Linked DNA regions of Homo sapiens: all the other regions are linked to region 2. The links come from fine-mapping of genetic effects on gene expression. A gene starts in region 2. Each other region holds a variant in brackets. All regions are shown on one strand. Distances are between the middles of the regions. Region 1 overlaps PLEKHH2 (pleckstrin homology, MyTH4 and FERM domain containing H2). Region 2 holds the start of PLEKHH2 (pleckstrin homology, MyTH4 and FERM domain containing H2). Region 3 overlaps PLEKHH2 (pleckstrin homology, MyTH4 and FERM domain containing H2).

The links.
Region 1: its variant is fine-mapped to the expression of PLEKHH2 in tibial nerve (GTEx, PIP above 0.99). The same link has a PIP of 0.9 or more in aorta, cerebral cortex and sigmoid colon.
Region 3: its variant is fine-mapped to the expression of PLEKHH2 in atrial appendage (GTEx, PIP above 0.99).

Annotation. Positions count from the first base shown.
Region 1 is chr2:43,706,975-43,717,337 of GRCh38, reverse strand. PLEKHH2 (pleckstrin homology, MyTH4 and FERM domain containing H2) reads right to left here. Exons shown (of 30, transcript NM_172069.4): 11 at 9,793-9,937; 12 at 7,212-7,348; 13 at 7,008-7,118; 14 at 6,763-6,849; 15 at 4,955-5,113. Among named protein-coding and RNA genes, the nearest start is that of C1GALT1C1L, 36 kb to the right of the region's middle. RefSeq lists a silencer at 2,114-2,313. The variant G/A (reference allele first, on the strand shown) is at 5,589.
Region 2 is chr2:43,632,455-43,642,817 of GRCh38, reverse strand. It overlaps PLEKHH2 (pleckstrin homology, MyTH4 and FERM domain containing H2), which reads right to left and starts at 5,558. Exons shown (of 30, transcript NM_172069.4): 1 at 5,439-5,558. RefSeq lists a silencer at 5,325-5,654.
Region 3 is chr2:43,719,008-43,729,370 of GRCh38, reverse strand. PLEKHH2 (pleckstrin homology, MyTH4 and FERM domain containing H2) reads right to left here. Exons shown (of 30, transcript NM_172069.4): 16 at 8,622-8,702; 17 at 2,920-3,099. Among named protein-coding and RNA genes, the nearest start is that of C1GALT1C1L, 48 kb to the right of the region's middle. RefSeq lists a silencer at 10,234-10,363. The variant C/A (reference allele first, on the strand shown) is at 3,815.

The DNA of each region.
Region 1 (10,363 bases), 75 kb before region 2:
TCAGTGATTCTCCTGTCTCAGCCTCCTGAATAGCTGGGATTACAGGCATGTGCTGCCATGCCCGGCTAATTTTTGTATTTTTAGAGAAGACAAGGTTTCACCATGTTGGCCAGGCTGGTCTCAAACTTCTGACCTCAGGTGATCCTCCCACCTTGGCCTCCCAAAGTGCTGGGATTACAGGCATGAGCCACCATGCTTGGCCCACACTCTTGTTCTTTACCTCATTCATAATTTTAAGCCCCTTGATCCTTCCATTTTATTCTAGCTTATCAGTCCCCTCCTGGCCCCATGTCCTTCTCTGCCAACTTGGGTTTCCATGTTTGATCACGAAACAACTCTTGCTCCAGGGCCTGTGATTATGCTGTATTCCTTTGCTTCTAACAAATCCACTCAACAAAATTCCATTTGCTTTTAAATAATCTAGTGAAGAATGTGACAAGAGACAGATGGTTATAGGAAATAATATTAGCCATAATTAATAACTGTTGAAACTAGATGATGAATATATGAGGGCTCATTATATTATTCCCTCTATTTTCACATACATTGGCAATGCCCATAATAAAACATTAATTTCAAATATCATCTTGAAAGATACGTGGTAAAGCAAGTAAAATGTTGATTGTAGAAACAAGGTGATGGGCATATGGTTGTACACTGTAAAATTATTCTGCTTTTTTGCATATTTGAAAATTTATATAATAAACTGTTAGAAAAAACCACTATCCTCACTTCACTACAATGTAAATTCTCTGCTCCTTTTTCTGGGCATCTGAAGATGTTAGAGAAAAATATTCGATAAAAACTCAAATCAGAAAGTCTGGTGGGCCTTCAATAATACTTACCAAGCCTTCTATTTATCCTTGGGTACATCCTACTTTCCTGAATGATTATTCTCCACCCTTTTCCCCACTCTTAGTAAATAACATTGTCGTACGGAATAATGTTCATTAAGAAAACTGAGGATATTAGACATGATATCACTCAATGTCCTACAAACTTAAGATACTTTTCTGCACCCTTCCTCACTTTTCCTCCAGTTTCAGCCCTTCCAGTGTGCCTTCCCACTATGTCCAGCCACCCACTTCTTCTGGACTTTGTCTTTAATCCCCCTCCTCCCTTCTTCCAGGGGCCTTCCCCTTAGTTTGTGAACTCAAGGTACATCTTTTCCACCCTAAAAAATGCCTCTCCTGACTCCAGGTTCCCTCCAGCTTGATTCTAACATACTGAAAGGTATAGATAGTCCTTGAAACTCAAATACTTCACTTATTAATCTCCCATTTACCCTTCAACCCACTGAAGGCAACGTACCTTCTTCTCTGAGCACATGTGACACTAGATCAGTCACAGGCATTACTCTCAGACCTCTGCACACATCTCCTTACTGTGCCCTTAAATTTACAAGTGTTACCCTGCTCTCCCCTGCCCTACATAATTTCCCATAATTGCCACATGTATGCTGATGATTCCTCGAATCCTTCTCTCCAATCCAGCCCTCCAGCACTCTTCTCCGATGTAGACTGGTGGTCTGCTGCCTGCTGGACTTTTTAACTAAGACATCCTACCAGCTCCTGATGTCTTCCAAAATCACCTAATCTTCCTAAAACTGCTCCTCTTTCCTGAGCTCTCTCTTATCTGCTATCATCTTTCTACCAGGCATCTTTATCTCTTCTACTTCCTAACCCCAAATTCAATCAAACTAAAGATTTTACCTCTTACCATTATTTAAATTCATCCTCTCCTCTCTTTTCCTGTAACCCCTTCAGAGTTTCATCCTCTTCATAGGAACCACTCCCTTAACTGTTCTTAGAACCTCCACCTTGCCTCCCACTGATTCATCTTCCTCTTAGCAGAGTAATCTGTTAGCAACATGAATATGCCCATGCTCCTGTTACAAACCCTGCAGGGTTTCAAATATCCTTCAGGATAAAGACCAAAGTCCTTAAAAAGACAAAAATAGCTTTCCACCATCCATAGGCCCCTCTAGCTTTTTCTCCAAAGGACTTGTTCCTAGTGCAGCTGGCACTGCTTCGAGATTTTTTTTTTCTTTTTTTCTTTTTTTTTAGACGGAGTTTCATTTGTCGCACAGGCTGGAGTGCAACATTGCAATCACAGCTGATTTCAACCTCCATCTCTCAAGTTCAGGCGATTCTCCTGCCTCAGCCTCCCGAGTAGCTGGGATTACAGGTGCCCGCCAGCATGCCTGGTTAATTTTTGTATTTTTAGTAGACGGGTTTTCACCATGTTGGTCAGGCTGGTCTCGAACTTCTGACCTCAGGTGATCTGCCTGCCTCAGCCTCCCTAAGTGCTGGGATTACAGGCATAAGCCACTGCTTCAAGACTCTAAGCCTTCATTCGCGCTGTCTCCTAGCCTAGAGTACCACCCCTCCACCCATTCCCACTTGGTATAACTAACTCCTACTCCTCCTTGAAGACTCGGCACAGGTAAATCTTCTCTCAGAAGTCATTACTGACACATCTCAATAATTGTACTTTATATCATTGTAAATAAGCTTTTGTCTCCCTCTTTTTTAATAGATTATGAGGCTCTCTGAGGAATGGGACAGTGGCCTATTCATCTTAGTATCTTTCAGCACATTGTGCTGCATGTGGTAACTGCGTAATACATTTTCGTTTTTTAAAGAACTGAATTTTTATATAGAAAATGTTTTTCCTAAGCATTAAAATAAAAATTGCAAGAGTGACTGTCTAGAATCAAATTAGTCAAGTTCTTAGCATCTACCTATATTATTCTGTACTTAATAAAAACAATGTGACAACCTGAGAAAACTTCCTCCCCTCCAAGGTATTCAAATGCAATTTGACAGTATCTCATATTGCAGCCTGAATGTGAGCTCAGAACAAGTCACTCAGAATAACTGAGGGAAGCTGTTCTCTCATAAGGTTCTAAGGGTGAAAATATGGGGGTGGACAAGCACAAATGGCAGGAAGGAAACTTAATAAGCATCCTGGCTATAAACCCTAATGATTTAGTCATCTGAGAATCCCATCGACTCATACTCATTTAAAATGCAATTGTGAAATGGGAAGTGGAGAATCGCAGAAATGTTATAGGAGCAGAAACTGACATGCCTTGCTGATAAAGTAAAAACAAGCAAGCAAACAAAATCCTAATTGTGGGGGAAGTAATAAACCCTTAGCCATGGGATCATCTTAAACTCTCAGGGTTTGATATGCATATGAGGTCCTTGAAACAAGAGCATAGCTCATTATTATGAATTATAGTAAGAATGTGATTTAAAGTAGCAGTGTGTTCACTGGAAAAGTATTGTGCAAATATTTTGTTCCCTAACCCATCAGTAACTAAGAAAACATTTTCACAGTCGTATTTTAGAAAAAACATAGTACATAGTATATTTCTTTGTTTAATGCAATAGTGAATTAAGTTTTACCTTTGCTATAGTTGGTCAGTCTTTTTAAATATTATGGAATAACACCCACCTACATTCCCACATTAATAATAAGTATAAACTACACAGTAGCATAGTTACTTTCCATCTAATTTTCCACCTCTTACATAATCAGAGTACATGAATGAGGAGTGATTATGTGTGTATACATATTTTGTTGTATTTTTCAAAAAGTGACCAATAGGACTTTTTAAAACTTAAAAATAATATTAAGTCAATACTTACTCATTGTAAAAAAAAAAAAAACAGAATTAAGCAAAAATAAATAAAATCACAGAGATAACCAATATACTTTGGTATATTTCCCAGACATTTTTCTATAAATACTTACAACAAATAAGGTATAATAATGTAATACTGCACTCTACTTATTACCTAACAATACATCATATTTCTATAGCATTAGATATTCTTTTACAACATTTAAAAGGCTGCATAGTAAAGCATTATATGGTTGTACAAACATTTTTTAAAGCTATACCTTACCCTACATCTAATTTGATCCCAATTTTTCTTTATTATGAACCATGCTGTGCAAGGAATCTTTCTGGGGTAATGGAAATGTTCTGCATCTTGATAGAGTCAAAAGTAAATAGCTTTCAAAACTAGTCAAACTCTACACTTAAGATCTGTGCATTTCAGATATATTAATCATACCTCATTTTTTAAAATAGGAAAAAAAACATGCTGTGAGGAACATCTCATAATTAAATCTTTTGCAAATTAAGACCACTTCCTAAGGATAAATTTTTAAAACTGAGATTGCTGGATCAAAGGAGATATATATGCGTGTGTGTGTGTGTGTGTTGATTTGATATTGATTTGTTCACTCAAAATTATTGGCTAAGTTAACACTTCAGCCAAGATATTGCCAAACTGCCTTTTAGAGTAATGCTCTCACTAGCAGATTTCTTTTTTTTTCTACTGCCTATGTAATTGCAGAAACTAGCAGATTTTTTAATCTGTGTCAATACTAGGTTTCAAAATTTGTAAAAACGTCTTACTTTTCACCAGATTTTAAAAAGTGCCACCTCTTATTTCAATCTGTGCTTTTAAAAAAATTGAGTGACAGTAAAATGTTTTTCCATATGCTTATTGATCATTTGTATTCCTTCTAACCTCGATGATCTCTCTTTCCTGCCCATTGAGTCTTTTGTTCCTTTTCCCCCAATTGGTGTTCATTGTTTGCTTACTGATTAGAAAAAAACGTGTTAAATATTAATGATATTAACCAGTTTTCACATGTTTCAAATACCTCTTCAAAGTTTTTCAATCCTTCTTTTAAAAATTCTGCTCGTAGAATTTTTAATAGAGCCTTTACATTTTTACATATTATAGTCAAATTTGTCTTCTTTTCATCTTTATAGTTTTTGCCTTGGGCATCATACTTAAAAACACCCTTTCCTATCCCCAAGATCATATCAATATTCAATATATGTATATGCTCTGACATCCCATTTTCAGCGATCATGGGCTCATGCCCATAGCTGCCTGGGACATTGCTATGCACAGGAGGTTCCTACCTTAGTGAGCAATCCCTTCATGGTGGGTTTGCCCTCAGGCTGCAGGGAAAGTGGGTTGGCAGCTTGTACTCGAAGAACATTCTGTAACACTTTAATCCACTCTTCCAATATATTGGGAGAATCTGCAGTCAGATAGTATGTGTGTTTTTCAGTGGTCAACTAGAATGCAACGAGAAAGGTATAGGAAAGAAAACTGTGAAGATTTAGGATTGTTAGCATTTCCTTGTTCATTATTCAAACGTCATTACTTAACACAGAAGCAAACATGCTAAATCTCAAGTCCCAGTTTCTAAATAAATGACTCCATATCAGTTAGAATATTTTAACCACTTTGTGAGAATTACAGCAATTAAATTTTTGTGGAAATAACTTTGTTACTCCAGTTTACCTAATTTTGGGGTTATGATTTTATATCTTGTTTATTTGTCACATTTTCCCTTTCTTGCTTAAATGTGTTACAGGTTCCTACTTTTCTTTTTTTTTTTTTTTTGAGACAGAGTCTCTTTCTGTCGCCCAGGCTGGAGTGCAGTGGCGCCATCTTGGCTCACTGCAAGCTCCGCCTCCTGGGTTCACACCATTCTCCTGCCTCGGCCTCCCGAGCAGCTGGGACTTACAGGCACCTGCCACCATGCCC[G/A]GATAATTTTTTTTGAATTTTTAGTAGAGACGGGGTTTCACCGTGTTAGCCAGGATGGTCTCGATCTCCTGACCTCATGATCCGCCTGCCTCAGCCTCCTGAAGTGCTGAGATTACAGGCGTGAGCCACCGCGCCCGGCCAGGTTCCTACTTATTGAAATGAGGAGCAGAATGATTAAAGACTATAATAAAATAGCATAGTTTTAGCAACTAAAGAAGAGGTTTCTTAATACAAATGACAAAATCAACTATAAATAAAATAAGAAGATCTTGCATATAAGAAGATAAATTATTGGAACGAACATGTGATTAGATATTATGAACTCAGAATGTTCCAGTCTCAAATTAGCCACACTGCAAATTTTCCAAATTTCAGAAACTTACAAATGATTCTTAACTGCCATGCCCAAAGACAAAGCTTTCCTTGATTCTCCTTTCTAAATTTTTGAGAGGTTTTCAGGTACAAATCACTGGAAACATTGATAATGTACCTTTCTGGCAAAGTTGTCCTCCACCCTCCAAAGGAGCAATATAAGAAAATAATGGTTATTGAAGACATTTCAGAAATAAAGTGTCTGACTTTAAATTACATATACTAGAATATCTCAACAGCCTGTGTTTTAAATTTAACAGATTTCTGGCAAGACTGGCCTTATGTGTGAGTAAAATGGGCAGCAGCTGCCCCTACAGTGTGACTTGCTTGGCAGCACACTCCCTCTGCTCACCAATATATTTCCCACTTTGGTGTTATGGCATCTGAAGTTCATATAAGAACTGTCATTTTCAGATTCTATATTAAAATACAAACATTCCTGAATTTCACAGTACATTATATAACTAACATCTTATTGAGAATTCATTTACCAGATAACCCTTCCTTAAAATAGCTTCACAGTTGGACAGCTGAAAATACCTAGGAGATTAAATATGAGGAAAGAAGAGTATAAAGGAAGAAAGGTAAAGTGTGGTGGGAGTTACTCAACACACACCTAACTTACATTATAGTTTTAACCAAAAATTCGTGGAGTTTCACATACTTCCAAGGCATCAAACTAACCCCCCAAAGTGAATAAAGAAACACTGAATTATCCTATCTCCTTTCCATTAGGTTGGATAATTGAGAATTGAGTCTGGCATGATACAAAAAAAAAAAAAAAAAAAAAAAAGTTAAGTACCTGAACTGTTTGTTTGTTATCTCCTCTTAAAATACTACAGGATGCACTAAGTTCAATATGGCCCTGGGGTTTTCTAATTACATCACTCTGTATGAAACAGAAAAACAAATGGAAAGTGATTAACTTTAACAGTAATAATAAGGAATGCTTTGTATCATTACTTGCATTATGGGAAGGAAATCAATCAGGCGTCTGATTTATAGTTTGAGGAATTACGTTCTAAACAGAAAACACTTTCCACTCACCGGAGATTTGTAGTAAAGTAATTCACCACCTTTAAGAACAAACCACCGCCGCTTCCAAGACTTGACTTTACCACTCATTTTTAATAAATAACCAGATTTTTCCAGTGGTTCCTAATTTTTAAAAGATAGACAAAAGCATTTTCAGTTTCCTTTTGGAGGCTCAATCTGACTGACTGCTTTTTAAAAATCATATTCAATATTTACATTTTTCCCATTATCACTGGAAGATGAGCAAGTTTTTGGGAGCTTCTGCTCTGGCTGTGAGTACTCCGTGTCTGTGGAGTAAGCATCAGGAGGAATAGCATAATCACTTTCAGAAGCCACAGAGGAGAGAGACACACCTAAGAGAACAAAGAAAGAAATCAAGTCAGTATTTAATACTGGGGAGGGCCAAACACCAGCTCTGAGTGCTCCTACAGAATGCAATTATTCCTAAATCATAAGCCTCCCTAGACTAGATTTATTCTCATTCCTTTGGCCATAAATAACTTTTTTTGAGACAGAGTCTCGCTCTGTCACCAGGCTGGAGTGCACTGGCACAATCTCGGCTCACTGCAACCTCTGCCTCCTGGGTTCAAGCGATTCTCCCGCCTCAGCCTCCCGAGTAGCTGGGGCTACAGGTGTGCGCCACCACGCCCAGCTAATTTTTGTATCTTTAGTAGAGATGGGGTTTCATCATGTTGGCCAGGATGGTCTCGATCTCTTGACCTCGTGATCCGCCTGCCTTGGCCTCCCAACATGAAGAACTTTTAAAGCAGAAAACAGAACTAAGAGGTAGGGACTGTCATGTAAATCTCTAAGGAAGTGAAAGGAACAGGAATAATATTTTGGTATGATTACAATCACACAGCTATTTTACATATATAAAATATATGCAAGAGTCTACTCATGTATATTTTATTAAGAATTAAAAATATGTGTATTTACACATTGACATATAGGCAAACAAATGTTGAACCTTAATTTATCAAGATTTTCACAATCACATTTTAAATTTCTTAACTTCTGTAATCACTTTTAAAGTAACCTCACATTTTAAAAAAACACAATTCAGTAGTATTTTTTCATTCAAGTTCCATAAGCTACTAAGCAGTTTACAGATTTTAAAAATATTTCATAAAAGAGAAACAATAAGATTGAAAGATATAAACAAACTATTTCTTTCACTTGCCAGCAGCTATAACATAAAATTCAATGGAACATTTATACAATGATTCATTTGCCTTTACAGAAAACTACCTGGGAGTTGCAAGCCACATTTCATGAGTCACTACAATTGGAGATTTAGAATATATTAAATAAAATCAAGGACTTAGGTAATTATTTATAAAAGTATCCAGCAATTTTTAAAAATATGTATTAACATTTAAGGGACATATTAGAACAATGCCACTCTTGTGACACTGCTTTTTATTTGACTCAGACAAGTAACAGTTGCTATAATATCTTCATTTTTCATAGAATAAACAAAAATGTAGACCTATAGGGACCTCAGTGATTGTCATGGCTAAGGCCCAAGGAGACTAAGGCCCAGAGATTAAAGGATTTGTCCAAAGTCAAAGAGTTAGGCAGGGGCAATGTTGGAACACAAGTCTCAGGCTCCCAGGACCAGGGCCAGTGTGCCAGGCACTGTCCTAGATGCTAGGGATAGAGCAAACAACAAAAATATTGGCTCTCGTGGAACAAATTCTAGCGGAAGGAGACCACTGACAAACAGGCAGTAGGTGGTATGGAACAATAAAACATAGAGCAGACTAAAGGGAATAAAAAGAGCTGGCAACAGAAGAAAGACAAAGGGCTGCAATTTGAGTGGTGTGGTCAGGGTGGACCTCATTGAGAAAGCAGCGTTTGCTGATGGAGGTGAGGGAGTCAGCTATACGGACATCTAGGGGAAGAATACCAGCTGGAGGAAACAGCAGTGCCAAGGTCCTGAAATGCAAGCATGCCTGGCATGTCTCAGAACAGCAAGAGGGCCAGTGAGACTGGAGCTGAGTACAGAGAAGAAAGGAGATGAGGTCAAGTACGTGACCGAATCCTGGAACACCTTATAGCCGTTGTGAGGAGCCACTGCAGTGTTTCCAGCAAAAGTGTGTCATAACCTGATTCTGGCTGTAGCGGGGCAAGTTGAGAGCAAGAAGACCAGTGGAAGCTCAAAATATGAAACCAAGGAAGGCTGAGCAGCTCCAGTTGAAGCCGAGGGGATTGGAAGTATCCAGAGGTTCCATGGAACACAGTTTGAAAGCCAACAGACACACCATGCTGCATTAAGGGCTTTTTATAACATACAGATGTCATTTGGTGGAATTAGATCTCTCTGTAACCACTACCTACACACAGAATGTCTTCAAAATCCACTAAAAATCATAGACATATTCCAAGTAAATGTTGTTCTCCACTTTAACATCAGATTAATTGACAAATTTTAAGGTATATTTTCTGCCAGTTAGCAGTGTAACAACTTTAGCTGAAATAAGTCTATTTCACAAATGCCAAGAAAGAAACCTCATTTTGGCCAATTATCTCACTTCATTCCAACAATAAAGTGATCTCCCTCTCACAGACAATAAAAAGCTGAAAAAAAAAAACTATATAATTTGTCTGAAATCACAGAGAATTAAGAAGAGAATTAGGAATATAAACATATCAGTCATAGGCTAAAGTTCTTTTCACTAGGGTCTGAAGCAAGTTCTTGGATTTAAAAAATAATCCTGTAATGGAGATAAAATTCCCAATTAATATTCAGAATGATCTGGAGTTGCCTCATATGCCTGCGATTTTCCCTCACCTCGTTTCATGGCTCTGGGGCTGCCTGGCCCACTCCTACTGCGTGAGTCTGACTCTGACGTCCGGGAGCTGGATCTGGAGCTGTCTTCTTCCTCTGACCCAGATGAGTCATCCAGGAAAGGGCTGCTACTTATTTGGGTCGCCTTCTAAAGAAAAGTGGAACAACCTCCCTGTATCCATCCCTAATGTTACCACTCATCCAAGAAAAGGCTGCTAGTTATTAGGGTCGCCTCCTAAAGAAAAGCAGAGCAACCTCCCTGTATCCATCCCTAAGGTTATCACTCTTTTTAGATAACAGAAAGTTTTACAGGAAGAAGTCATAGCATAGAATTTTTTTTTTTTTTTTTTTTGAGGTGGAGTCTTGCTCTTGTCACCCAGGCTGGAGTGCAATGACATGATCTCGGTTCACTGCAACCTCCGCCTCCCAGGTTCAAGCGATTCTCCTGACTCAGCCTCCTGAGTAGCTGGGATTACAGGCACCTGCCACCACGCCCGGCTAATTTTTATATTTTTAGTAGAGACAGGGTTTCGCCATGTTGGCCAGGCTGGTCTCGAACTCCTGACCTCGTGAT
Region 2 (10,363 bases):
CACAGTTTTAAAAATAACATGAAGAGTGGATATTTTTCAACAAATTGAAATCAATCAATGTAATGCACCATGTGAAAAGAATAAAGAACAAAAACCGTATGATCATTTCAATAGACACAGAAAAATCATTCAACAAAATCCAACACCCCTTCATGATAAAAATATTCAAGAAACTACAAATAGACAGGAACTTCCTCATCCTGATAGAGGACGTTTACTAAAGCCCACAGCTAACATCATACTTACTGATAAATGACTGACAGTTTTCTCCCTGAAATCAGGAACAAGACAAAGATGTCTTTTCTCACCACTTCTATTCAACACTGTAATAGAGATAATAGCCAGGGCAAGACAATAAAATAAAAAACCATCTAGATTGGACAGGAAGAAATAAAACTATCTCTACTTACAGATGACATGATCATGTGCATAGAAAATTCTAAGGAATCCACAAAAAAATACTAAACTATAGAGTTTAGCAAGGTTTCAGGAAATCAGATCAACATACAAAAGTCAGTTGTTTTTCTATACACTAGCAAGGAAAAATCCAAAAATGAAAATAAGAAAATATTCCATTTACAATAGCATCAAAACTAATAAAATATTTAGGAATGAATTTAACAAAAGAAGTGCAAAATGTGTGCACTGAAAACTACAAAACATCACTGAAAGAAATTTAAAAATACCTAAATAAATGGAAGAAATTGTATATTCATGGATTAGAAGACTTAATATTGTGAAGATGGCAATACTTGCAAATGGCTATATACACACAATGCAATCTCTATCAAAGTTGCAACTGCATTTTTTGCAGAAATTGACAAGCTGATCAAACTTTGCCTGGAAATTCAAGGGCTGAAGAATAGACAAAATAAAATTGAAAAGTTGGAGGACTCACATGTTACTATTTCTAAACTTACTACAAAGCTATACAGTAGCTTGATTACACAGTGTGGTACTTGCATAAAGATAGATATATAGATAAACAGAATAAAGTTAAGTCCAGAATTAAAGCCTCACATTGATTTTTGGCAAGAGTGATAAGATCATCCAATGGGGGAAAGAATAGTCTTTTCAACAGATGATGCTGGGACAACTGGATATCCATATGTAAAAGAATGAATGTGGACCCATACCTCATACCATATATACACAGTAACACAAAATGGATCACAAACTTACAGGTACCAGCCAAAGCTCTAAACCAGGGGTGTCCAATCTTTTGACTTCCTTGGGCCACGTTAGAAGAAGAATTGTCTTGAGCCACACATAAAATACACTAACACTAAAGGTAGCTGATGAGCTAAAAAAAAAAATTGCAAAACAAATCTCATAATGCTTTAAGAAAGTTTACAAATTTGTTTTGGGCCACATTCAAAGCCATCCTGGGCTGCCTGTGGCCTGCAGGCCACAGGTTGGACACGCTTGCTCTAAACTCTTAGAAGAAAAGAGGTATAAATCTTCATGACCTTGGATTAGGCAACAGATTCTTAGATATGACACCTAAAGCACAAGGAATCGAAGAAAAAATAGATAAATTGGACTTCATAAAAATTTTTAAATTTTTGTCCTTCAAAGGACACTATCAAGAAAGTGCAAAGATAACCCACAGAATGGGAAAAATAGTTGCAAATCATGTATCTCAGGGATTTGTGTCTAGAATATATAAAGGACTCTTAGGACTCAACGATAAAAAAAGATAACCCAATTAAACAATGGGCAAAGGCCTGGACGTGGTGGCTCATGCTTATAATCCCAGCACTCTGGGAGGCCGAGGCGGTTAGACTGCCTGAGCTCATGAGTTTGAGACCAGCCTGGGCAAGGTGGCAAAACCCTGTCTTTATTAAAAAAAAAAAAAAAAAAAAAATTAGCCAGGCATGGTGGTGCAGGCCTGTAGTCCCAGCTACTTGGGGGTTGAGGCAGGAAGATCACTTGAGCCCAGGAGGTCGAAGCTGCAGTGAACCATGTTCACACCACTGCACTCCAGCCTGGGCGACAGAGGGAGACCCCGATCTTTAAAAACAATAATAATAATAAATTAAAAATAAATAAATAAAAATGGGCAAAGTATCTGAATAGAGATTTATCCAAAGAAGATATACAAATGGCCAATAAGCACATTATTTGCTATGAGAGAAAATGCAAATCAAAGTCACAACAACATTCCACTTCACATCAAATAGGATGTTCTAATGAAAAAGACATCTAACAACAAGTGTTGGTGAGGATGTAGAGAAATGGGAACCCTCATACATTGTTGGTGGGAATGTAAAAATGGTACAGCTGCTTTGTAAACAGTTTTACAGTTCCTGAAAAGTTTAAACAGGCCAGCATGGTGGCTCACGCCTGTAATCCCAACAGTTTGAGAGGCTGAGGTTGGAGAATTCATCTCTGAGGTCAGGAGTTCAAGACCAGACTGTGCAACATAGCAAGACCTCATCTCTATCAAAAAATTTAAAAATCAGCTAAGCGTCGGGGAGCTTACCTGTGGTCCCAGCTACTCGGGAGCCCTGTGTGGGAGGATCACTTGAGCAGTGAGCTATGATCATACACTGCACTCCAGCCTGGGTGACAAGAGTGAGACACCGTCTCAAAAAAAAAAAAAAGTTTAAATATAAAGTTACCAAGTTATTGGAGTAACTTTATATTTGGTATATCAATATAAAGTATTGGTAACTTTATACTTGGCATTGGAGTTGCTGGGTCATATGCCAAGGGATGGGGTCATATGCCAAGGGATGAAATACACATCCACACCAAAACTTGTAAATAAATGTTCAGAGCAACATTATTCATGATAGCCAAAGAGTAGAAACAGCCTGTGTCCACCATCAGATGAATGAATAAAATGTAGTAGATCTGGCTGGGTGCAGTGGCTCACTCCTGTAATCCCAGCACTTTGTAGGGCAAAAGCAGGTGGATCATCTGAGGTCAGGAGTTCAAGACAAGCCTGGCCAACATGGCAAAACCCCGTCTCTACTAAAAATACAAAAATTAGCCAGGCATGGTGGTGCAGGCCTATAATTCCAGCTACTAGGGAGGCTGAGACAGGAGAATTGCTTTAACCCAGGAGGCAGAAGTTGCAGTGAGCTGAGATCCTGCCATTGCACTCCAGCCTGGGTGACAGAGTGAGACTCTGTCTCAAAAAAAAAAAAAAAAAAAAAAAAGTGGTACATCCATACAATGGAATATTATTCGGCCATAAAAAAGGAATACAGTACTAATACACGCTATAGTCATGGAAGAGCCTTGAAAACATTATGCTAAGTGAAAGATGCCAGACACAAAAGGCCACATATTGTATGAGTCCATTTACATGAAATGTCCATAAGAGGCAAATCCAAAGGACAGAAAGTAGGTTAGTGGTTGCCAAGGGCTGTGAGGAGAAGGTAGCAGATACTGACTACAATGGATAGGGGGTTTCTTTTTGGGGTGATGAAAATATTCTAGAATTAGATATTGGTGATGGCTATACAACCTTGTGAATATACCAAAACCCAGTGAACTGTATACTTTAAAAGGAAAAATCTTATAGTTTGTGACTTATATTAAGATCTCAATAAAAAAGATCACATATTTACAAATGACTAAAGAAAAAGTCGCAGTTTAAATGGATGTATACTAGGACTGCATTTACAAATTTAATCAACCATTATTTGTGGTTATCCCTGCCAAGAATTTCACAATTAGCTCAAAAAATTGAGAGGTAACTGTTAACCCCAAATATGAAAAGTATCATACATATATCTTACCTAGCGCACTTTGCTATGATGACATAATAAATTAATTCAAAGTCAAACATACCTATTTCTTTAGTTATGCTAATTATATATTTTATAGTGAAGTAGCAAAGCCTTAAGAATATTATTAAATTGGCATTTAACATCTACATTCCCTATTAATGGGTCATAATAAATCAGAACTGCAAATTGGTTGGATAATGGTCTGCACTGAGATCCAGACACCTGATTCCCTCATTTCATTCTGTAATTTCAGTTAGTTAACAAGTACAAAGCAACTGTTGTATTAGTGCACCATCTTGGGTAGTTAAAAATTCTAATTTTAAACAATATCCGCCATCCTTTTCATTACCACTAATGTTATAGAACTATATAACATTGGGAATATATATATAACTATATAACATAGCCGACTGCTAAATAAAGAAAATACCACATATAGATTCTGAATTTGAAAGGAATCTATCATGTCTAGATTCTGCATTTGAAAATAATCTATCTTCACTTCAGGGGACAGGAAAAAGTCTTGGAGTTCCAAATACCCCCAGTGATTTTTGGAAGTATTTACTGACATAAGATAAACTGTTTACAATTGTGGAGTGAATGCTCTTTTCTCTGAATCTCTGACTTCCTGTTTCTCTTCCAAATCCCAAAAAGGAAAGAAAAAGAAATGAAAGAATTATTCTACTTAGGCTTACCCTGATGAAGCGCAGCGTTAGTCTCTATGATATTCTTTAGTTTTTGCCTCTTAAGGGACAGCTTAACTGGGCTGGGTAATCGTGTGTGTGAGTGTGTGTGTGTGTGTGTGTGTGTGTGTGTGTGTGTGTGTTAAAAGATCTTTCTCGACGAGACTGAGGCATGCCTTGTTTAAGGAACCTTCTGACCACCACCTAGCCACCTAGCCCCACTTGGGCAACGCCTGCCCTTCGGTGACCCTGCCCAGAACAGCCGAGCTCCTCACTACATACTCCTCTGGGACACACCGCTGTGCGGGCCAGGCTTCCAAGACTGGCATTTTCACAAAGAAAGCAGTGACCCTCAGGTAGCCCACCACCAGAGCTTTTCCAATGTAAGTGGTTCGACTTCTATTTCCACAGCGTTACGCACAACAATATCGACGGGTAAAAAGTGTTGTCCTTTAAAAAGTGCCCCACTAACTTCGGGGACAGTGGTTTCCGGGTAGGTCACCTTAGGGTGCTTTGACGTGCCAGCAACTCGAGGTGTACAAAATGCTTCTTTAAAGTTTTGAGTTTAAAGTTTCGCCCCGGAGATCCTGGTGGATCTCCCGAAGCCTAAGGCGAGCGCGGCATCCCTGACCGCGCGGGTCCCTCGGCTCGGGGACCCTGGGCTGCCCCGCTGCGCCCCCGGGACCGCTCGCGCCGCGCCAGAAGCCCGGGCCCAGTGTTTCCAAACAGAACGTCACGGGAGCCCACGGGCGCGAGGGACCGCCGGCCACCGCCCCCTGCCCACCTCTCCCGGCGACATCCAGACTTGGGGGCCGACTCTGGGCTGTGGCGGGAGGTGCAGCGGCGGATCCCGAGTCAGCCCGCTCCGTCCCTCTCGTCCCCGCCTTCCCGCTCCTCCCGGCGCCCCAAACCTCGGCCCCGCGAGCCCCCCTGGACGGGGCGCCCTCAAGGGGGCGGGGATCCCAGGGTGGCAGGAACTCTGGAGTGGCCCCTCGTCCCCGGGCTTTCTCACCTGTCTATCTCAGCAGCGGGTCCCCGGCCGCAGCGCCCGATGTCCCGGCCGCGACTGGCCCCCGGGATCCCCGGACTCTCAGCCCGCGCCCGCCTCAAGCCGAGCTCGGAGAGGGCGGGGAAGGGCACCGCCTCCTCCAGGGACTGGCAGCCGGTGTAGCCAATGGGAGACCACAGCCGACCACCGGGCGTCACCGGGGGTGTGGCTATAACTTTGGCTCCTCCCAGTCCCTGCCCCAGGAGGGAGCTCTGTCCTGGAGTGGTACCCCTAACGTCCCAACTGCGAGACTCCAGAGCTTGCTGCAGCGGCCGGTCACCTTCATTCCACTCCGTCTGCCTGGACTGTTGCAGCACCCTCCCTTGGTCTCCCAGTCTGAAGTCTCTCCTCTTGCCAATCCACCCTTCATCTTCCTGCCAGGTTAATTTCCTTAAGAGCAGTTTTGATGAACAGTGTGCCAAAGACTTTCATTGGCTTCCGTTTGCTTAAATTATCAAGAACAGATTCCCTAGTCTAGTGTTCAAGGTCTCCATCCCGTCTTTTCAGGTTTATTTCTCACAGCTGCCCTTCACACACCTGAGACTACTGCTGTGCACCTCGCCACCCGAAGGAAGTGGCACTAGGAGCGTTTACATGCTATTTCCTGTCTCCACTTCAAAAAGCTCAGAATAATCTTCTCACCGGGCGCAGTGGCTCACGCCTGTAATCCCAGTACTTTGGGGGACCGAGGCAGGTGGATCACTTGAGGCCAGGAGTTCGAGACGAGCCTGGGCAACATGGTGAAACCCTGTCTCTACCAAAAAAAAAAAAAAAATATATATATATATATATATATATACACACAAAAAAAAAAAATTAGCTGGGCTTGGTGGCGCTCACTTGTAGTCCCAGCTACTCAGGAGGCTAAGGCTGGAGGATTGCTTAAACACAGGAGATGGAGGCTGCAGTGAGCCGCGATCATGCCACTGCACTGGATCCTGGGCGACTGGGCGAGATCCTGTCTCAAATCATCATCATTATCATCATCATCATCATCATCATCTTCTCCATGTAACTATGTCTGTCGCTCCACCTGGCAGAAATGTCGTCTCTGGGCCGGGCGCAGTGGCTCATGCCTGTAATTCCAGCACTTTGGGAGGCCGAGGAGGGCAGATCACGAGGTCAAGAGATCGAGACCATCCTGGCCAACATGGTGAAACCTGGTCTGTACTAAAAATACAAAAATTAGCTGGGCGTGGTGGTGCACGACTGTAGTCCCAGCTACTCGGGAGGCTGAGGCAGGAGAATCGCTTGAACCTGGGAAGCGGAGGTTGCAGTGAGCCAAGATAGCACCACTGCACTCTAGCCTGCCTACAGAGCAAGACTCCATCTGAGACAAAAAAAAAAAAAAAGGTCTTCTCTGGTTTCTGCTCCCTGAACATCTAGATTTTTGCCTCTCTTGGGGCTTAGCTCCCTCTGCCTTATGCACAGCTCCTCACATCTCTTTTAGACTGTGAGCACTTTGAAAACAAGGATTTGTGGTTTTTTTTTTTTTTTTGCATTCTCCTCAGCACAGAGCATATTGCATAAGTAAATTAGTGATAATTTAAATCCAGGTGAATTTTACATCCCAACTTAGGGTCTGGAGAGGTCAATCTCAGGGTAAAATAAAGAGAATTCTGAATGTTATGGATAATCGTTCCCCAGGTCACAAAGCTAGGTCAGACAGATTATTCTCTTTGGTTCACAGTTGGCCAATAGAGAGTATCAGAAAAACTTTTTCTACTACAATCTTTTTTTTTTTAACTTTATCTCATCTTATATAAAACACACACACACACACACACACACACACACACACACACACACACACACAGAGGATGGGCACAGTGGCTCATGCCTGTAATCCCAGCATTTTGGGAGACCAAGGCGGGCAGATGACTTGAGGTCAGGAGTTTGAGACCATCCTGGCCAACATATCGAAACCCCATCTCTACTAAAAATACAAAAATTAGCTGAACATGGTGGCATACGCCTGTAATCCCAGCTATTCAGGAGGCTGAGACAGGAGAATCGCTTGAGCCAGGAAGGCAGCAGTTGCAGTGAGCTGAGATCGCACCACTGCACTCCAGATTGGGTGACAGAGCAAGACTCTGTCTCAAAAAAAAGGAAAGAAAAAACCACAAAAGAGATAAAGATTTTCAAAGTTTCTCAGAGGAAAAGCAATAAGTGAATACAACTAAAAGTCCAGTAAGCAAGTATCAGGCTTTCATATTTCTTCCAGATGAGCATTAATTTTGAACAGGATCCCAGACTACCCCCACACATCAAATTCCTTTTGCCTTCTGTGGGAGCTGATGATGCATATCATATGAAAAATTGTCTTCAAACAGCTTTGGCAAACAAGCAGACTGGACTGGGCTTATTTTATAGAGCACGCAGGAGTTAAACAAACAGAGTTTCAGTAACTTGCATAATTTAACACAGCAAGTCAGTAGAGACCAAGCAGGAGAAAGAGAGAAAGAATGCCAAAATAGAATCACTTCCGTTTGTGAGTCAGAAATACTAATTAGACTAAAAGAACTGAGTGAATAAAGTCACTCATGAAAAGCCGCTTTGTAAACACGGCTGCCACCCTTGTAAGGCTTAGCCAATATTTACTTACTGTCACCTTTTTCTAGAAACATGACAAACTGAATTTGTCTGGGTATGGAGAATACAGCGGAACAGCATCCTATCTTTGTCTATGCTGAGAAAAACACATGGTACAATGGAATATTATTCAGTGGTAAAAAGAAATAAAGTACTGATACATGCTACAACATTGATAAACCTTGAAAACATTATACTTAATGAAAGAAGCCAGTCATTTAAAAGGCACATACTGTAGGATCCCATTTACATGAAATGTTCAGAACAGGCAAATCCATAGAGACATAAGTGGATTGGTGGTTGCTTAGGGCTGGGAAGGATCGGGGTGATGGCTAAGACAAGTGAGGTTTATTTTTGCGATAATAAAAACATTTATGGTGATGATTACACAACTTTGAACATACAAAAAGCCATGGACATACGCAATTTAAATGGATAAACTGGATGTTATTGAATTATATCTCAATAAAGATGTTTTAAAAAAGAAAAACATGTTGAATTTTGTGTTTTTACGTTAGGTAGCAGGGATAGAAAATGTTAGTAGCAATAGGCACCTTTGTTTTATAAGCATTAATCTAAATTGTGATATTATGTTTATTTGTGATTATTTTGTCTGTTTTCCCCCCCACAAGACTGTAAGTGCCAGAAAAGTAGAACAACTGTTTTTGCTCTTTAATGTATATCCAGTATCTAGCAAAAATCATAAGTCAAACCACCGTAAATCAGGAACTGTTTATACATCTCAACTTCTTTCAAGAAATTGAACCTACAAGGTCTAACAGCTGATTAGAAGGCGGATTAGAAGGGAGGCTTTGTGTCTGCATTATCAGGAAATGATGGTGCCATTTACAAAAGTAAGGAAGCAAGGAGAGGGAACAAGAAGAATGAGATCTGGCTTGGAGGTACTGAGCACAACTTGAGGTGCGAGTGAAATATCCAGGAGAGAGCCAAGAGAAAATCAGTCAGGCTGAGCTGGGGAGAAGGTTTGAATTTGGGTGTACATTTCAACGTATACTTCTGCATAGGGGGAGATTACTGTAAATTGTAGAATGATTGCTGGCCATGTGGCCATTTGGCACATTGGGAGCAAGGACAGAGGGGTTGAAGGGAAAAGAGGTACGGAGCTGGGTAAATATCAGGGAATAAGTATCTGATCCTTTAATCCACCACACATAAAATCCAAAAAGAAAGAAGGAGGGCGGAGACACTATCTCCACTAGAATAAGCTTGTGGCTTCTGGCACGGAGAAAGTATAAACCCCAGCACCTGGGAAAAGATATCAAAGACAAGGGGAAGATTTGGAAAAATGAATAGAGCTAGCAGGAACAGCTCTCTCTAGCTGAGGAGGGTACAGGTCTGGGCACTCCAGGCTGTTTACCTGCAACCTAGGAGACCAGAAAAGCCTTGGCATGAAGGAGGCCCTACAAACAAGGAGACAGACAAGCATCCTGGCCCTCCCAGTGGGGGTGGACCAGGAAAACAGTTTCTTTGATGTGTCCCCAGTGTCCAGAGCATACTGGCTTGCTCAGTCCTTTGGGTCTGCAACGAAGGCAGGATTTGCTTCAATCTCACCTCCCCAGGTGAGCTGGGCCCCCACTATCACAGATTGGTTGGGGGTAGCATAGGTGGTGCCAGAACTGGTGAAGGTGAGAGACTAATGGGCATTGCTAAGGTCATGAAAAGAAAACAAGTGTGTACAGAAGCATAACAAAAGCACAGAGGTGGGTACTTTGAGCACCACTTATTTTAAGGCAACTGAAAAGAGGAAAAGAATTGTTGAACCAGACTGAGGGAGAGCCAGTAATAGTTTGTTCAGGACCCATGAAGTTAAAAAAAAGAAAAAAAGACACTGGACATTAAAATCACACAGGAAAGCTGGGCAGGGTGGCTCACGCTTGTAATCCCAGAACTTTGGGAGGCCAAGGAGGGCGGATCACGAGGTCAGGAGTTCAAGACCAGCCTGGCCAACATGGTGAAACCCCATCTCTACTAAAAATACAAAAAAAATTAGGCAGGCGTGGTGGCATGCCCTTGTAATCCCAGCTACTCAGGAGACTGAGGCAGGGAGAATCACTTGAACCTAGGAGGTGAAGGTTGCAGTGAGTTGAGATCTCACCATTGCACTCCAGCCTGGGTGATAGAGTCACACTCTGTCTCAAAAAAAAAAAAAAAAGAAAAAGAAAGAAAGAAAAAGAAAATCACACAAGAAAACAGTGATCCAGACAGTAAAAAGGTGTTAAATGTGAACAGATTATTTTTCTTGCTTGGGGTCAGTACCTACCAGGCAAAGGCAGCCA
Region 3 (10,363 bases), 87 kb before region 2:
TAAGAGACTAAATACAACCAGCTGATATTCTTTTACAAAATAAATAAATTCTATTAAATTAAAAATCTGGCTCCCAGAGTGATACATACAGAATATTTTGGAAATCCAGAAAATTTAAAGAAAACATAATACCCGTCTTATCCCATTCACCAAAGATTCCTGGTCTTTTTTTCTCTATGATAATATATATGTAGATTAAATTTTTACATAGTTGAATTATTCTGAAAGTAGAGGATAATTTCTGAATTTTAGTAATATAGTACAAGCACTCCCTTGTTGCTAGAAATTCTTTATAAACAAGTTTTAATGGCTGCAGGATATTCTACTACACATATGGACACACCATATTTATTTAATCAATTTCTTATTGCTGAACATTATGATGGTTACTAACTTCTCACTGATAAAAAATACTGTGACAGCTATCATCTGTTAACTGAAAAGGAAATGTTATATTTTCCATCTTTAAAATACTTCAAAAATAAAATTATTTTAAAAAGAGTATTGTAGGCCGGGCACGGTGGCTCATGCCTGTAATCCCAGCACTTTGAGAGGCCAAGCCGGGTGGATCATCTGAGGTCAGGGGTTTGAGACCAGCCTGGCCAACATGGTGAAACGCCGTCTCTACTAAAAATACAAAAATTAGCTGGGCATGGTGGTGCATGCCTGTAGTCCCAGCTGTTCGGGAGGCTGAGGCAGAAGAATCTCTTGAACCCAGGAGGCGGAGGTTGCAGTGAGCCGAGATCACGCCACTGCACTCCAGCCTGGGCAACAGAGTGAAACTCTGTTTTAAAAAAAAAAAAAAAAAGAGTATTGTGTTGAACAAACTATACATAAATTTTTGGCTACATTTACTAACATTTTCTTTTTCTTTCTTTTTTTTTTTTTTTTTTGAGACAGAGTCTTGCTCTGTCACCCAGGCTGGAGTGCAATGGCGCGATCTCGATTCACTGCAACCTCTGCCTCCAGGTTCAAGTGATTCTCCTGCCTCAGCCTCCCAAGTAGCTGGGATTACAGGAACCTGTCACCACGTCCAGCTACTTTTTGTATTTTTAGTAGAGATGGAGTTTCACCACATTGGCCAGGCTGGTCTCGAACTCCTGACCTCAGGTGATCCACCTGCCTCGGCCTCCCAAAGTGCTGGGATTACAGGCGTGAGACACAGTGCCTGGCCAACATTTTCTTAGTATATATTTTTTGAAATAGAATTATGAGTCATTACTAGGGCGAGAAAACTTTTAGGAACTCTTGAAACATATTTTCAAAGTACTTTCCAAAGCATTTACACTAATTTCTATTCTCACCAGTGGTATATAGGAGTGCTTCCCTCCTCATAGCTTCACTAGCATAATTTTTTAAATCTTTGATAATCTCAGAGACAATAAAAGCTTTATCATTTTTAAATGTGCGCATCTTTGATTACAGATGAGCGTAAGCATTCATTAGCCATTAAATTCCTCAGTAAGTTGTTCATCAGGCCCTCTTTCCATTTTTCTACTAGAAACATAGTCCTTTTCAAATCATATGAGAGGTAGCAGAGGCAAGTGTTCAGGAACACAGGCTCTGTGGTTAGAGATAGGGGTCTAATATCAACTCTGCCTCTTGCCAGATGTGTGACCACAGGAAAGTGCTTCAGTCTTTCCATCTATAAATGGGAATAAGGTCACCTCCCACAGAGGGTAATTGGAAGGATGAAGAAGAGATATACTTAGCACTTGGCCTGATACATGTGCTCAAAAACAATGATCAATAGTAACAATAATAATCTATAAAGAGTTGTTTATATGTTAAGGATACAGTAGCCATCCATGAAATATTTTGTTTTCTGTATTATCTTTTTAGTCATATTTATGATAATATTTGACATAAATAATTATTTCAATTTTGTATAGTCAAATCTATCAACCATTTGCACTCTGATTTCTTACACTGCCTTTTTGTTTTTGTTCTTTTTTTTTTTGAGACGGAGTCTCGCTCTGTCGCCAGGCTGGAGTGCAGTGGTGCGATCTCAGCTCACTGCAACCTCTACCTCCTGGGTTCAAGCGATTCCCCTGCCTCAGCCTCCCAAGTAGCTGGGATTACAGGCACACGCCACCTCGCCTGGCTAATTTTTGTATTTTAGTAGAGACAGAGTTTCACCATGTTGGCCAAGATGGTCTCGATCTTCCTGACCTTGTGATCCACCCGCCTCGGCCTCCCGAAGTGCTGGGATTACAGACGTGAGTCACCGCACCCAGCCCGCCCTTTTGTTTTCTTAGAAAGTACTTCTGATTCAGAACTCAGATAAAGGCCTTTTTAAAAAATAATTTCATTGAATTCTTTTAACTCTTTAAATTCTGGAAATTATTTTGCTATCTGTATGAGATGAAAATAATAATCTGGAAATTATTTTGCTATCTGTATGAGATGAAAAACTAATGTTTCCTAAGTAGCCAATTTCCTCAATATATAAGAAATACATAATCATATGTATTGAATGATATATTACTTCCCCATTAATTTGTGATACCTCCTTTATCATAAATGACTACATGTACATATAATACATAAAATAATTAATTTTCTACTGTATCTAAGGCCAAATTTTATTAAAAATTAGTCAAAAATATAAAACAGAGTCCTTAGATTTACCAAAAAATGTTCAATCTGAGAGATCCACATTTTTAACATAAGTTCCTTTAGCCCTCCACTTCCACGCACTAATTTCAGCCTTGATACCACTCTTACCAACAGGATTAGAAAATGACATATTTGAACGAGGCTCATTTCCAGGGAGGTAAAGAATCTCTGAAAACAGAGGTGAAAGTCTATAGCAAAATTTTCTTCCTTATTTCCATTAAATTGATTTGATAATTATTACCAATATCTGAATAATATTAGTCTACATCATTCTAAATCAACCAATAAGTCTTTGAATACCTTTTCATGCTTGGATCCAATTAGGAGGTAAGTTGGACCTTGGTCTTTGGGATGGATAACGATAGTATAATGTGTGGATAACAGACTTCGTCCACTGGCTTCATAATCTTCATCTGAATCACAAGATCTGTCAACCTCTTCCACTTTAGCCTCCCAGAGTTTGATCTGACCTAAAGGAAACTAAAGTAAATATTAGTAATTGTGAGGAAGGCATTTTCTAAATCTTTTCCTACTAAAACATTTCATAGTCCTTTTCATTTTTAAATTTATAAAGCATACCTTTAAAAATTTTACTTTATTTTTTATTTTCCTTTTTTTTTTTTTTTTGAGACAGGGTTGGGTCTCCCTCTGTCTCCCAGGCTGGAGTGCAGTGGCGCAATCAGTAACCTCACTGTAACCTTGAACTCCTGGGCTTCAGGGATCCTTCCATCTCAGCCTCCCAAATAGCTAGCACTACAGGCACATGCCACCATGCCCAGCTAATTAAAAAAAAATGATTTTTTTTTGGAGATAGGGTCTTGCTACATTGCCCAGGCCAGTCTCAGACTCCTGGGCTGAAAGAATCCTCCTGCCTCAGCCTCCCAAAGTGCTGGGATCACAAGCGTGAGCCACCGCATCAGTATAACATACCTTTTTAAAAATGATGCCTAGAGGCAATTTGATTATCCACAGTGTAACAAAAGTAGTGGCAACAACCAAAGAGCCTAAAAGTAATATGAAAGAACCATATACATATTAGAGATTTAACTTCTGAGGAAAAAACAAGATGCTACTTTTATGCAGTAGTTCAGATGATTCAGCTGTACTAAAATTCTTATAGGAGGCAGAAAGAAATTATTTAGATAGACAGTTAGGGTAAAGCAAGTCCCCAGCAGAAAACTTTCCTTTTTAAAAA[C/A]GCAGCTCAAAGATAGCTCCTTTTCTAACCCCAGGCAGTTCAAGGAAATCACTTCTCTTCTAACAACAAGCAGCCTGAAAGAGCAGACAGTGAAACACAGATAAGACAGCTTCGGCACAGAAGGAGGGGGGAAGGTCTCCTGGGTAATTACCAAACTCCACACTTGTACAATGGGCCCCCCAATAAAACAGTGGGCCTTAATAAGCACATTCTTTTCCCTTTGGACACACTAAGATAGAGAAGCTAAAAGCAGACTAGAGGGGGTGCCTACAGCTGCAAGAAGATGGCAACAAACACAAACTCTCCCTCCCAGATAAGCAGGACAAAGAAACACAGACTAACAGTCAGCCTATGTGGTTACGGAATGAGACAGAGCTGATAAAAAAAACTCTGCTCTGTACAGATAGCACACCTGGTTCCAACTAAACCATCAGGAGGATAAGATATCCCCTCCTTACAAGCTCCCTCCTCGCTAGCCCATTTATAAAAACCCTGACATCTTTACTACAAATTGGCAACCCACTCGGGACCCTTCTCTGTGATGGAGAGGTGTTCTTTCCTTTTGCACTATCTACTAAACTCCTGCTCTAAACTCACTCTGTCTGTGTGTGTCCATGACCCAGATCTCCTTGTCCTTGAGAACAAGAACTTTGGTATTTACCCCAGACAATGAGGCTGCTTCAAAATGACCCATTATTTAGTTAAGCAACTAGTCATAATTCACCAAAACAGTCATTTGACTTTTTTATCCCACAGAATTGATCAGCAATTTGATTAAGTTATTGGATCAAAAGGACAAGTGTATACATAGTCTCAAAACTGCTTATTGAAAAGAAAAATATTGTTCCTAGAAAAAATAACAAGATTAGATAGGTAGTGCAAAACGAACTATCATCCCAAATGCCAGTAAAGGAGGAGCATTCCAAGGCTCTTTGTTATATATCACAAAACAATACCATGAATTTCTCCATCTTAAGGGTAAGAAAAACTTCCTAAAGCCAATTTATATTAAATTTTATCTAAGCTTTTATTGACAAAACCAACTATATCTGGTGTGTTGAATATTTGGCCTATCTGTTGTAAAACTTTTGCTCTAATTTAGTACCTTTATTCCAGGAAAATACACGGTCTGCATCAGATTTATAACTTCTAAAATATTTGGCCAAGTTTGCAATTGGAGTTTTGAAAAAGTTCATTCTAACTACAAGGATATTTACCTCACACGTTTACATGCTAAGTTTCAGGGCTCAGTGCTGGAGCCCTTCTTCCATCTATGCTCACTCTCTGGGTGACCTCATCTAAGCTCATGGCTTTAATACCAGCATGTTAGCTACTCCCAAATTTATAACTCCAGACTCACTAACTCTACTTAGATGTTGGATAGCATTTCAAACTTAACAGCATTTCAGACTTACCTTGGTAAGTCCTCCTTGACAACCTGCTCTGCCCAGTCTTCCCCATCTCAAGTTGTTGGCAATGTTACTTTTCTATTAATAGCTATTAACACCCAAAACCTTGGCATCATTGCAGTCTCTCATACTGACTTTTCAGTCAATAAATCCTGTCAACAAGACTTTCAGAATCTATCTAGAATCTGTTCATCTCTCACATGTCCACAGCACCACTAAACCACAATCCCCTCTCACCTGGATTACTGCAATGGCTCCTAACCCATCTCCTCCTTATTCCCTCCGGTCTATTCTTAATCAGCAGTCGGCGTGTGCCTGTTAGACACAGGCAAGATCATGTCCCTGTTCCGCTCAAAGCCCTCCAGTTGTTTGTCATCTCACTCAGAGCAAAAGCTGAAGGGTGGCAGAATCTGCCACCCCAACAGATATCACTTTGGCATAAGGGTTATTTTGAACTAAAGGCATTTTTAAAAGCAGCAGGTGCAAGAAGGGTGTTCTGACCCTCTGCGTTTTCTTCCCAAAGGCAGGAGGGAACCTGCCTTTCATAACGCCTATATGAAAGATATCCTCCCTTTACCAGAAGGAAAGTAAGATTCTTGTCAAGATGGGAAGCCGAAGCCTGGGGAAAGTTATACAAACAACCCTTGTTAAACTTAATCTTATCTTCCTCCTCACTTCTCCACCCAAGTAACTACCCCAGCCCAAGTCTCTTTGCCTTGTCACATTTTCACAATTTACTACACTTTGTCCAGTTTGGTGTATAAGTGTTCACCTTTATGTCTTGGAGTCTTCATTGCCTTAGGAAGGCTCCTCTGTGATGTAAAACTTAAATAAATGTATATGTTTCTCCTGTAATCTGTCTTAATGTGAATTTAATTCTCAGGCCTGCCAAAAACCCTAAGAAAGTAGAGGTAAAATTTCGCCTCTCCTAAAAAGCAAGCTTTTAATAATAGGATGAAGAAAACAAATTCTATTAATACTATGATAATACATAACAATACTAACCTAATTGTGTACTTTAGGCACAATGATATGAAAATCTAGGTTTCATCCACCCTAATATTTAAAGATGGTTATTCATTTTACCAAAGGATGCACCATGCCTTGATAAGCAGCAAACAGACCTAGTGGTTTCAAATATTTTGATTTAATAAAAAAAGACATTGATACAGATTAAAAGCAAATTCTTTTGGAAATATTTATAGCAAAAAATGAAGTAGGCCTATAATGATTCACATATATTCTCAATACTTTTCCAGTTGTTATAATGGATTTCTGTTTATGTATCCATTCTTCTGACTTGTTTCTTCTGTGATCAATGCTATCCATTTTTATTAAATTATTTTTCTATTTATAAAAACACATGCTTATTACAGAAACTTGGTAAGTATGGAAAGGATTTTAAAAAGAAAGAAACCATCCATATTACTGTGATCACAGATAATTATTTTATTTAGATGTGTCAGACTGAGATTTATAAACTTGGCCTTCCAATCACCATCCTCTAAGATCTCATAATTACAGAGAAATTGGGAACTGTATTTGCCAGAACCTCCTTCCCTGTTATGGTTCCCAGTTAGAGTTTCCTGTGAGAGAATCTACTTGAAGTTTAGAAGGAGAGGGTAGAAGAGTTGTTATTCTCCTGGGACTACGGTGGCTGATGTTGGGGCTCATGTAAGATTCACTGAAGCTTCCCAGTGAAGCCTCGAGGACCAGCTGCCTTCAGTCCTTTGGCCAGAAATCTTCAGTGTTGTCTTCTCTGACCTTCATTGGCAGTTTCCCTAACTTTTACCACTCCCATACAACTTTTCTAAAAGTTATGTAAGTTATAAAACTTCTCTAATATTTACGTATGTCCACAATTCTATATTAACATTTTTTTTTTTTTTTTTGAGATAGGGTCTCACTCTGTCGCCCAGGCTGGAATGCAGTGGTATGATCACAGCTCACTGCAGCCTCAATCTCCTGGGCTCAAGCAATCCTCCTGCCTTAGCCTCCCAAGTAGCCAGGACTACAAGCATGCATCACCATGCCTGGCTAATTTTTTTTTTTTTTTTTAGTAGAGACTAGGTTTTGCTATGTTGCCTAGGGTGGCATTAGATCTTTTACACCTGTAACACGTACAGTGGCTTCTGTTTTCCTGACTGATGAGTTAGGATTACATTGACAGCACAATTTTGTATTGTACATATTCGGGTAGCATTTGTATGTCGGCATTTTCCCACACTACTTCAGAGATTGTTTGTTTGTTTGTTTATTTTGAGACAGGGTCTCATCCTGTCACCCAGCCTGGAATGCAATGGTGCGAATCACAGCTCACTGTAACCTCCACCTTCTGGGCTCAAGTGAGCCTCCAACCTTGATCTCCCTAGTAGTTGGGACTACAGGCACACACTACCACACTCAGCTAATTTTTAAATTTTTTGTAGAGACAGGTTCCCACTATGTTGTCCAGGCTGGTCTCAAACTCCTGGGCTCAAACGATCCTCCCACCTCTTGGCCTCCCAAAGTGCTGGGATTATAGGCATGAGCCATCATGCCTGGCCTCAGTATTGTTTTTAATGGCTGTACTGCGTTAATCTCTACCCCATTAGCAACACTGAGTATAACGGCATGTATTTTAAATACAGCTGGTCAGACCTGAGAGTGTAGGCTATCAAAAGGGAAGGAGAAATACTAACTGTCCCATGTGGTCACTAGACCAAGAAGTTTAGTCTCATTAACACAGTAACAGTCACAGGCTGCTCTTCAGAGGAGCAGTCATCATTATGTTATACAAGTACTCGTGGCCCATGTTGGTTCAATTTTTATAGCTTCAGTTATCCAAAGGTGACACAGAATACCCATAATGATGACTGGGCATGCGTTTTACCTTTGGGCAGACACCCCATCTTTTTATTCTGAAATTTAAAATAATTCAGATTCTTTTGGGGAGGGGATTAGTTTAAACATTAATAAACAGAATATAAACAGGCAGATGGATGGGTAGATAAGCGGTATTCGGGAATTTGAGGGCTTGGGACAGAAATAGATTCCTTTTCCTTTTTAGGTTTTCTTTCCTAACTTGCTGCTTCCTTCTATCAACCTTATCTGGTCTGTAAGAACCTGGGAAAATATAAGAAACTGATGGTTGTGGGGAGGGAATAGAAGAAGACTGTTCTAGGTCTTAGAAGATGCATTAATTAAAAGTTGCTAAGGCTTGTAATTAAGAATCAAGACCCTTGTAGGTGTAGGTGATAGACCTTTGTGTGATTTTCTCAGTTGCACCAAATTATACCAAATTTCAACCTCATAAAGATTCTGAAGTTTTACAAAGTAAGAGAAGAGAGAAAAGGAAAAGTTTAAGCCCTAACACACAAAAAGTTACTTCAATTGGCATATTAAAAATACATACATACCTTATCTTCTTGACTCCGAAAATAATATAATGTCTTTCCTATTAGTGTACACCAGACTCTCTTGGAATATCCATGTTTTACCTGAAACCATATTTCAATGAATTACAAGTTTAGCCCAGAACTCTGACACCTTAAATTATAGCTTATACACCCTATTTGAGTTTCTATAGGCATCCAGTTTGCCCAGATATAAGTGATATTCCAAATAGATTGTCCAGTGCTGTTTAAGATGTACCTGTCACACATTGAGCACACATGGACATAAATAGGGAAACAATAGACACTGTGGACTAGCAGGGTAGAGGGCACCGGGGTGGCTGGGTTAAAAAGCTACCTATCGGGTACTATGCTCACTACCTGGGTGATGGGATCTGTACTCCAAACCTCAGCATCATGCAATATTCACATGTAACAAACCTGCACGTGCACCCCCTATATCTAAAATAAAAGTTGTAAAAAAAAAAAAAAAGATTTACCTGTTAACAGTAGTAGAATGGCAAGTTTTGCTTTGGTGCTCACCATTCAACATACAACGAATGTTTACTATGCATCAAACACTATGCCTAGGACTGAGGTTTCACAGATGGATAAAGAAGGGAGTGGAGGGGTGGATTATGGGAAATTATGTAATGGGGTACAATGTATGTTATTACGAGTGATGGGTATCCTAAAAGCTCTGACAGAATCACTATGCAATCAATGCATGTAATAGAATTCCACTTGTACCCCATGAATGCATTAACATAAAGAAGAGAAAGTGCAGTTTCACCAGTAAGTATATTTCATAGTTTCCACATTTCACAGATTTCCAATAGCCATGTGGCTCTCTAGGTTAACACTCTAATGTCAATGCATGTAACAGAATTGCACTTGTACCCCATGAATGCATTAACATAAAAAAAGAGAAAGTACAATTTCACCAGTATATTTCATAGTTTCCACATTTCACAGATTTCCAATAGCCCTGTGGCTCTCTAGGTTAACACTCTAACATTAGAAGTGAGAAGATGAAGGCTGTGCGCGGTGGCTCACGCCTGTAATCCCAGGACTTTGGAGGCCGAGGCGGTGGATCACCTGAGGTCAGGAGTTCAAGACCAGCCTGACCAATATGGGGAAACCTTGTCTCTACTAAAAATACAAAAATTAGCCAGGCGTGGTGGTGGACATCTGTAGTTCCAGCTACTCAGGAGGCTGAGACAGGAGAATTGCTTGAAACCGGGACACGGAGTTTGCAGTGAGCAGAGATCACACCACTGTACTCCAGCCTGGGCGACAGAGCAGGCTCCGTCTCAAAAACAAAAAAGAAGTGAGAAGATGAAAACCTGAAGAATTCTAGTAATTTCCCAAATGTAAAAGATTCATTCATTCAAAAACATTTGATGCCTTCTTAGAAGTAATCATACAAAGTAATAAAATAATGTTAAAAGCTATTACTGTAAATTGAGTACCTCCTGTATATCAGGTACTAAGTTAAGTGACTGGGACAGAATTTGAATCTAGCTCTTAACTTTGAATAGTCAGTAAGTGATATAGGCCCTGGAGTAACAGATTTGAACAAGATACAGTCTCTTTCTCGGGAACTCACAGCCTTGTGAAGAAGACAGACAATTAAATCAGCAGTATGTTAAATATTTTCATCAAGAGTGCAGAGGCTCACAACTGGGCTGTTGTGAGAACCAAATGAGAAAATGTAAATAAAGGATGACAGTAGTTACTCAATAAATGCTTCCGTCCTCACTATG